2 linked regions of the Homo sapiens genome follow. The protein of the gene in region 2 interacts with the protein of the main gene of each other region in a pairwise test. Each region holds a gene or a part of one and is shown on either strand. Other genes may lie near its edges.

What was found. Proteins that work in one complex are often made in the same cells at the same time.
Region 1: the proteins of UQCRC1 (region 2) and TBX6 interact in binary tests that used the Homo sapiens proteins (3 or more experiments, as listed by UniProt).

What each region holds. Positions count from the first base shown.
Region 1 is NC_000016.10:30,090,004-30,093,603, reverse strand, and holds the start of TBX6 (T-box transcription factor TBX6), read left to right. Parts: upstream 1-1,679; 5' UTR 1,680-1,731; intron 1,732-2,069; exon of another isoform or gene 2,070-2,362; 5' UTR 2,363-2,410; coding exon 2,411-2,528; intron 2,529-2,611; coding exon 2,612-2,846; intron 2,847-3,600. Other genes in the region: YPEL3 (protein yippee-like 3), read left to right, coding at 805-894. UniProt on the Homo sapiens protein: T-box transcription factor that plays an essential role in the determination of the fate of axial stem cells: neural vs mesodermal. Acts in part by down-regulating, a specific enhancer (N1) of SOX2, to inhibit neural development.
Region 2 is NC_000003.12:48,607,792-48,611,733, reverse strand, and holds the start of UQCRC1 (cytochrome b-c1 complex subunit 1, mitochondrial precursor), read left to right. Parts: upstream 1-2,087; 5' UTR 2,088-2,113; coding exon 2,114-2,182; intron 2,183-2,431; coding exon 2,432-2,572; intron 2,573-3,942. UniProt on the Homo sapiens protein: Component of the ubiquinol-cytochrome c oxidoreductase, a multisubunit transmembrane complex that is part of the mitochondrial electron transport chain which drives oxidative phosphorylation.

The DNA.
Region 1 (3,600 bases), on a different chromosome or scaffold from region 2:
TAAAGAGCTGGCCTAAACAAGAGGTCAAAAACTCAAGTGCCAGGCTGGGTGTGGTGGCTCACGCCTGTAATCCCAGCACTTTTGGGAGTCTGAGGCAGGTGGATCACCTGAGGTCAGGAGTTCGAGAACAGCCTGACTAACATGGTGAAACCCCATCTCTACTAAAAATACAAAAATTAGCTCGGCGTGGTGGTGGGCGCCTGTAATCCCAGCTACTCGGGGCCAAGGCAGCAGAATCACTTGAACCCGGGAAGCGGAGGTTGCAGTGAGCCGATATCGCGCCGTTGCACTTCCAGCCTGGGCGACAGAGCAAGACTCCCTCTCAAAACCAAACAAACAAAAAAACCTCAAGTGCCTGCAAGGCCAAGCAGATACTGTAGATGTGTAAAGGGTAGCATAGATTGGCAGGGTTGGGAGTTGGGGGCAGGCTGGGCAAACTGGAGTGAGCAAGGCCTACTTATATTTTAATACTTTAAAGTTATTTTTATTAAACTGTCTGCTGTCCAAACATAATACATGTTGTAGGCCAAAATGGCCATGAAGCTACCAGTTTGCAAACCCTGAACTGTGAAATCTTTTAGCCACTTCCCTATCTTCTCTGTTGGAGCCATCATTAGTACTTAAAAAAGTACCTTTGAGTCAGGGAGTTCTATTCTACTCTGTGTTTGTGAGAAATACGGCCCTGCCCCTCTGGGCCACAGTTTCCTCATATGTAAAATGGGGCCACTCATGTCCACTTCCCAACCCCAGTGCCTTGTGGTGAGACTGTTGCTCCGGGGATGACGGTCCCGCCCCTCCTTTCAGGAACAGGCCTTTGAGAGCAGCCAGAAGTACAAAGAGGGGAAGTACATCATTGAACTCAACCACATGATCAAAGACAACGGCTGGGACTGACCCCCGCTCCCCCGACGCATGTGGCTCCAGCCCGGCCTGGCCGCCAGGGAGCGCCACTGGCTTCCCGCCACCCGAAGGGAGCTCTGGACCCTCAGAGCCCCTGCAGAGGACGGATCTAGCTCCTGTATATATATTTTATTGCATGCACTGTGACCTTGGGGGGAGAACAGAAGGGGGACGACGCCCCCGCACCTCCTGCGATCTGGCTGGCTTGGATCTCGTTTTTAACCCGTTCCTGCCCCACCTGCCCTATAGTTATGGCCTGTGTTCTGCTCTCCTGGTCCCAGTGCACCGTCTGCTCTGTGAACTCCTCCCACCAGGCCCTTCTTACCCCACGCGTGTCTGTCCCCCTCGTTCTGTAGCGTTTGTACATAATAAAACAATGGAGTGGAGACAGCTCAGGCTCGCGTGTAATCCGGGAAGGGGGAGCTCAAGCGGAGATTTCCGCCCCTATAGACCTGTGCGGTTCTGAGCCCCGGCGGGGCATGGGGTAGGCACAGCCGTCCAAGCTGGGTCTCCGGGAACCGGGACGGTTTCACTGCTGGCGGAGGTCCTGAGCCCACTCTGGCTGCCTACGCCGTGACCTCGGCTGATCTGCGTCTGCTCATCTGCAGCGTTTGGCCGCCGCCTAGGGGCAGCGTCCCAGGGAGGCAACCGCGCCGCCGGCCTCGCAGCCCCCTCGCGGTCGGACTGCAACTCCCAGCGGCCCCCGCGTGGTCCGTCCGGCTCCTTCGGGCGCGCCTCAGCGCTGAGCCTGCCGGGAAGTGTAGTTCCGAGGGTTCCCCAGCGCGGGACCTTCGGGAAACCCTGGCGCGAGGCGTCAGAAGCTGTCGGACTGTGAGCGCCTTCGAACTTTGGAGGCTTGGCTCGGGATGGAGGTTTTTTTAGCATGGGGACCAGGGAGGACTACGGTGCTCGGGACTGGGCTGCGGCCTCCTCGCGGCCCCGAGTGCCCTGTGAAATCAGCTCAGGCCGCGTCCCTCTAGCCTGCACTTTCCCTCTGTTCACGCTGCTTCCCTCCAGGGCCCGGCCTCCAAGTGAAGGGGGGCGGAGGGCGGTCACCTGCCAGAAGGTCTGGGGCGCCAAGGTGTGTCCCGGGACTCTTGGCTCCGTCCAGGTTCCAGGCCCCGCCCCCCAGCTTATCCCTAGCCGGGGCTCCCCACCGTGGGAACGGGGACCAGCTGGCCGGAAGCGCCAAACTGCGTCCCTGTCCGAGCCCTGGGGATCAATCAAGCCGAGGAGTTAATTATGTAATGAGGGGGCAGGGGGTCGAGGCTAATGAAGCCTCCCGGGGTGGGGAGGGAGGGGAGGAGGGGACCGTACCCAGGTATCCGACCCCCTCTCGGACCCCTTCGAGGCCCCAGGGGTCTCCACCCCAGCCCAACTCCAGGGCCCCAAAGAGGGGAGGGGCTGTGATCCTGGATCTGGAAGGGGCTGAGCTGTGAGCTATAAAGGGGGCATCTCGCAGCACCGGGGGCCCTAAGCAGCGAGACCTGAGGCCAGACGGAACTACAACATGTACCATCCACGAGAATTGTACCCGTCCCTGGGGGCCGGCTACCGCCTGGGGCCCGCCCAACCTGGGGCCGACTCCAGCTTCCCACCCGCCCTAGCGGAGGGCTACCGCTACCCCGGTGAGCGTTGGGACCAGCTCCTGGGTAGGAGAATAGGGGGGCTGTGGCCCTCGGCTGGCTCCTCATTCTTCCCCGGCTTCCAGAACTGGACACCCCTAAACTGGATTGCTTCCTCTCCGGGATGGAGGCTGCTCCCCGCACCCTGGCCGCGCACCCACCTCTGCCCCTTCTGCCCCCTGCCATGGGCACTGAGCCGGCCCCATCAGCTCCAGAGGCCCTCCATTCCCTCCCGGGGGTCAGCCTGAGCCTGGAGAACCGGGAGCTATGGAAGGAGTTCAGCTCTGTGGGAACAGAAATGATCATCACCAAAGCTGGGAGGTGAGGGGCTGGCCAGGGTCCGTGTTTCTGGTGGGGGTCTCTTGGGAAAGGCAGAGTCCCTGGGGAGGGGGCTAGGACTGGGTGGTTCCCGAGGGGCTAGAGCTCTGCCTAGGCCTAGAATCTGACTATGGCCTGGGGCAAGGGTTACTCTGTGGCAGGAATCAGGAGTCACTCTGTGACAAGGGTTAAGGGCCAGTCTGTGGAGTCTGTGGCTGAGTTTAGGGACCAATCTATGGCAAGGGTCATGGGTCAGTCTGGGGCAGGGTCAGGAAGTCCCTCTGGGTTATAGGTTAGTGTGTGGCTTAGACCAGCATCCAGACAAGGACAGGGGGTCAAGGGCCAGCCCATTGACCAGCATCAGGGAAATCTGGCCAGGATTCGGGATCAGTATGCAACTCGAATAGGAGTCAGTATATGACTAGGTCCAGGGTCACCCTAGAGGCAGGGACACGGTCAGTGTTTGACCTTAGATGAGGTCTTTAGCTGGGGCAGGAACTCAAGCCCTAGCATGGAAAGTCCTCGGCCCTACTGCAGGCAGGGTATATTTTTTCTAAAGCAAATTCATCTAAGAGCTGCAGATTCTGGTGCTGGAGATCAGGGGAGGAGAGGAGGGTGGGGACAGGAAGCTCCTAGCAAGAAAGTTAGTCACCCCTGCTTCTGCAAATAGGCTTTGAGGGGTAGGAGTCATGGCTCTGTTCCTAACCTGCTGTGTGACAGATCACTTAACCCGTCTGTCCTGTTTCCCCAAATGTAA
Region 2 (3,942 bases):
CCTCAGCTTCCCGAGTAGCTGGGATTATAGGCACATGCCATCATGCCTGGCAGATTTTTTGTATTTTTAGTAGAGACGGGGTTTCACCATGTTAGCCAGGATGGTCTCAATCTCCTGACCTTGTGATCCGCCCACCTCGGCCTCCCAAAGTTTGGGATTACAGGTGTGAGCCACCGTGCCCGGCCGAATATGTATGTTTAGCCAAGCCATTCGACATAAAGCTCCTGCCTCTTTTTAAGGGTCTGTCTCTGGTTTTGACCAGAAGCCCACCTCCCAGCCTGCAGGTTGTAACCCTTTATAAGAAATAAAGTCAGCCTGGCACGGTGGCTCATGACTGTAATCCCAGCACTTTGGGAGGCTGAGGTAGGAGGATCACTTGAGCTCAGGAGTTTAAGATCAGCCTGGGCAACATAATGAGACCCCCGTCTCCACAAAAAATAAAAAAAAATTAGCTGGGTGTGGTGTGAGAGCCTGTGGTCATGGCATCTGGCATGATTTTTATAAAGATAGTTTTATTTTAAGTATAAGAGTAGTTTTTGGGTAAGGTGTGGTGGCTCACCCCTGTAATCCTAGCACTTTGGGAGGCTGAGGTGGGTGGATTGCTTGAGGCCAGGAGTTTGATATCAGCCTGGCCAACATGGTAAAAAATGCAATGATCCTAGCCCTTGCCTCTTCCTGTACTTAAGATACTGTCTGACAGGATTAATGATTATGCTTCTGTGACCTATAAACAGATGTACTCTTGCACCCAAACCTTGATGAGATTTATGCTCTAATGTAACTTCTGAGCACATTTGATGTAATTTCTGAGCACATGGAGAGCCGCCACCACCAGTGTATAAACTGTCGGAAACACTGCTTTGGAGCAGTCTAGCAGAAACTCCCTGAAAGGCTCTCCCGGGTTGCAATTCTTGGTAAGACTTCTGAATAGAACTAACTTTAAATATTTAAAAGCTTGTTTTTTTTTTTCTTTAGTTGACATAACAAAGCATACCTTAGAAGTCTTTTTTTTTTTTTTTTTTTTTTTTTGAGACGGAGTTTCGCTCTTGTTGCCCAGGCTGGAAATGGCGCGATCTCGGCTCACCGCAACCTCCGCCTCCCGGGTTCAAGTGATTCTCCTGCCTCAGCCTCTGGAGTAGCTAGGATTACAGGCATGCGCCACCACGCCCGTCTACTTTTGTATTTTTAGTAGAGACGGGGTTTCTCCATGTCGGTCAGGCTGGTCTCAAATTCCCGACCTCAGGTGATCCGCCCACCTCGGCCTTCCAAAGTGCTGGGATTACAGGCATGAGCCACTGCACCCAGCCAGAATTCTTTTTCCTCTTACAGAAAAGGAAAGGTTTCACCATGTTGGCCAGGCTGGTCTTGGACTCCTCGCCTCAAGTGATCCACCTGCCTCGGCCTCCCAAAGTGTTGGGATTACAGGAGTGAGCCACCGCTCCCGGCCTGTACTTAGTTCTTTTAAAGAGAAAACTGGCAGGGCGCAAAACTGGCCAACATGGAGAAACCTTGTCTCTTCTAAAGAAACAAAAATTACCGGGCATAATCCCAGCTACTCGGGAGGCTGAGGCAGGAGAATCGCTTGAAGCCGGGAGGCGGAGGTTGCAGTGAGCCGAGATCGCGCCATTGCACTCCAGCCTGGGCGACAGAGCGAGACCCTGTCTCAGAAAATAAAAAATAAATAAAGAGAAAAAAATACTGACTTTCAGCACCAACTTGTGGTCCCAGGTAAGTTTCCACGCTGGTACTTTAGCCCTGGGCTCGAACCTGCGGACACGCTGTGGCTGCAACTCCCCGCCCGCCAGACCTCAGTACGCAGCGCGGCTGGTGAGAAACATAATGCACTCTGACTTCCACGCGTGGAATGGGGAGATGGACTGCACGGCGGGCGGACCTGCTCGGGCTGATGGACGGCAGGTGGACTGATGTGCGCAGGGACTGGCGGCAGCGCGGTCAGAGCCAGTCAGCCAAAGCCAGGCCAGCACAATAGACTGTCCCGGTTCCCGCCAGGAGGCGGCCGAGCACCAACTGTACGGTACTGCGCCTGCGCCGCGACCGCCAACGCGCCCAGTCTACGCTTGCGCGGCGCAACAGGGCCGACTGCAGCTGGAAGATGGCGGCGTCCGTGGTCTGTCGGGCCGCTACCGCCGGGGCACAAGTGCTATTGCGCGCCCGCCGCTCGGTGAGGTGGTGGCGAGAGCGCGGGGCTTCGGGACAGGGCTTCGGGAAGCGGACAGGTGTGGGCTGTTAGCAGTGGCAGGTCGAGGTGGGGAGGACGCGGGGTCAGGGCCGTGGGAAGGTCACGGCGGAGGGCGGGGAAAGGTATCTCGCCGCTTGCCTAGGGGCGGGGTTCGGGGGTCCTCCTGAGGACCTGGGAGGTGGGGAGCGATCCCCTGACCGAGTCCTCACTCGCGGCTGTTCCCTTCCACAGCCGGCCCTGCTGCGGACGCCAGCCTTGCGGAGTACGGCAACCTTCGCTCAGGCGCTCCAGTTCGTGCCGGAGACGCAGGTTAGCCTGCTGGACAACGGCCTGCGTGTGGCCTCCGAGCAGTCCTCTCAGCCCACTTGCACGGTGAGTTGGGGACGCTTTTGGGGAGAGGGCCTCCAGGTTGGGCCTGCCGTCTTTTCCCTGGTTGGGGTGTGACCTTGGGCTCGAGTCTTCCCGTTTGTGGTTTGGGTTCGGACCCAGGACCACTCACCCCGAGAATGGCCCCATTCCCTACCCTAGCCACGCCTTGGCTTCACGGGACAATCTTCACTATAAGCCAACATTATTTAGCATATAATGCCCGTTAAGTAGGCGGCCAAATTCTTTTCCAGCCTTTTGTTAAGGAGCCCATATAAGGGAAGTGATCATGTCTCCTCTTATAATGCGGAAAATGGGATTCAGACACCTTAGGTGACTTGCAGGGGTCCAGGTCTGTCAGCCTCACTGCCCAAGGTCATAATCTCCAGGCTAGACCAGAAATACATTTTAGGAAGCAAATGCATTTTAACAGTACAATGAAATGTGTGATTTTCCAAAAAATACAAATTCTCTAAATTGACACAAGAAATCTTGAGTCACAGATAGATATATGAATAGGTGAGAAGATTCCCAAGAAATAATTATCTCCTCCTCCTTTCAGCCCCCAGCCCCAGGGCCAGATGTTTTTATTGACACATCCTTTTAGTTTTCCAGAAACAATGTCCTGCGATTTAAATTGTTACTAAGCATAGGAAAAGGTGGCCTGCAACTTCCTTGTTATATGTCACTTGTTATAGTAAAGAATGCTATATTACATGAACTCTAAAATGTGCTAGATTGTAAGGAGCTGTCTGTGCTCCAGTGCCAGAGAAAGAATCTCAAGAATCTTGCCAATTTTAATCAAAGGATACTATAGATTGTAAAATGCCTCTTGCATTCCAAGATGTTAGATGTGAAATACATGTTCATCTAAGATTGTGTGATATATGGTATATGCATTGACATCTCTTAGGAAAGCAAATATCACATGTTCTCACTTATCAGTGGGAGCTAAAAAATACGTACATACAGATGTAGAGAGTGGAATGATGGACAGTGAAGACTTGGAAGGATGAAGGGGTGGATGATGAGAAACTACTTAATGGGTCCAGGCCTGGAGGCTCACACCTGTAATCTCAGCACTTTGGGAGACCAAGGCAGGCGGATCAGCTGAGGCCAGGAGTTCAAGACCAGCCTGGCAAACATAGTGAAGCCCCATCTCTACTAAAAATACAAAAATTAGCCATGCATGGCACACGCCTGTAATCCCAGCTCCTGGGGAGACTGAGGCAAGAGAATCGCTTGAACCCGGGAGGCAGAGATTGCAGTGAGCCGAGATGGAGCCACTGCACTCCAGCCTGGGTGAGAGAGCGAGAGTCCATCTCAAAAAAAAAAAAAGAAATTACTTAATGGGTACAAGGTTTGTTATTCTGGTG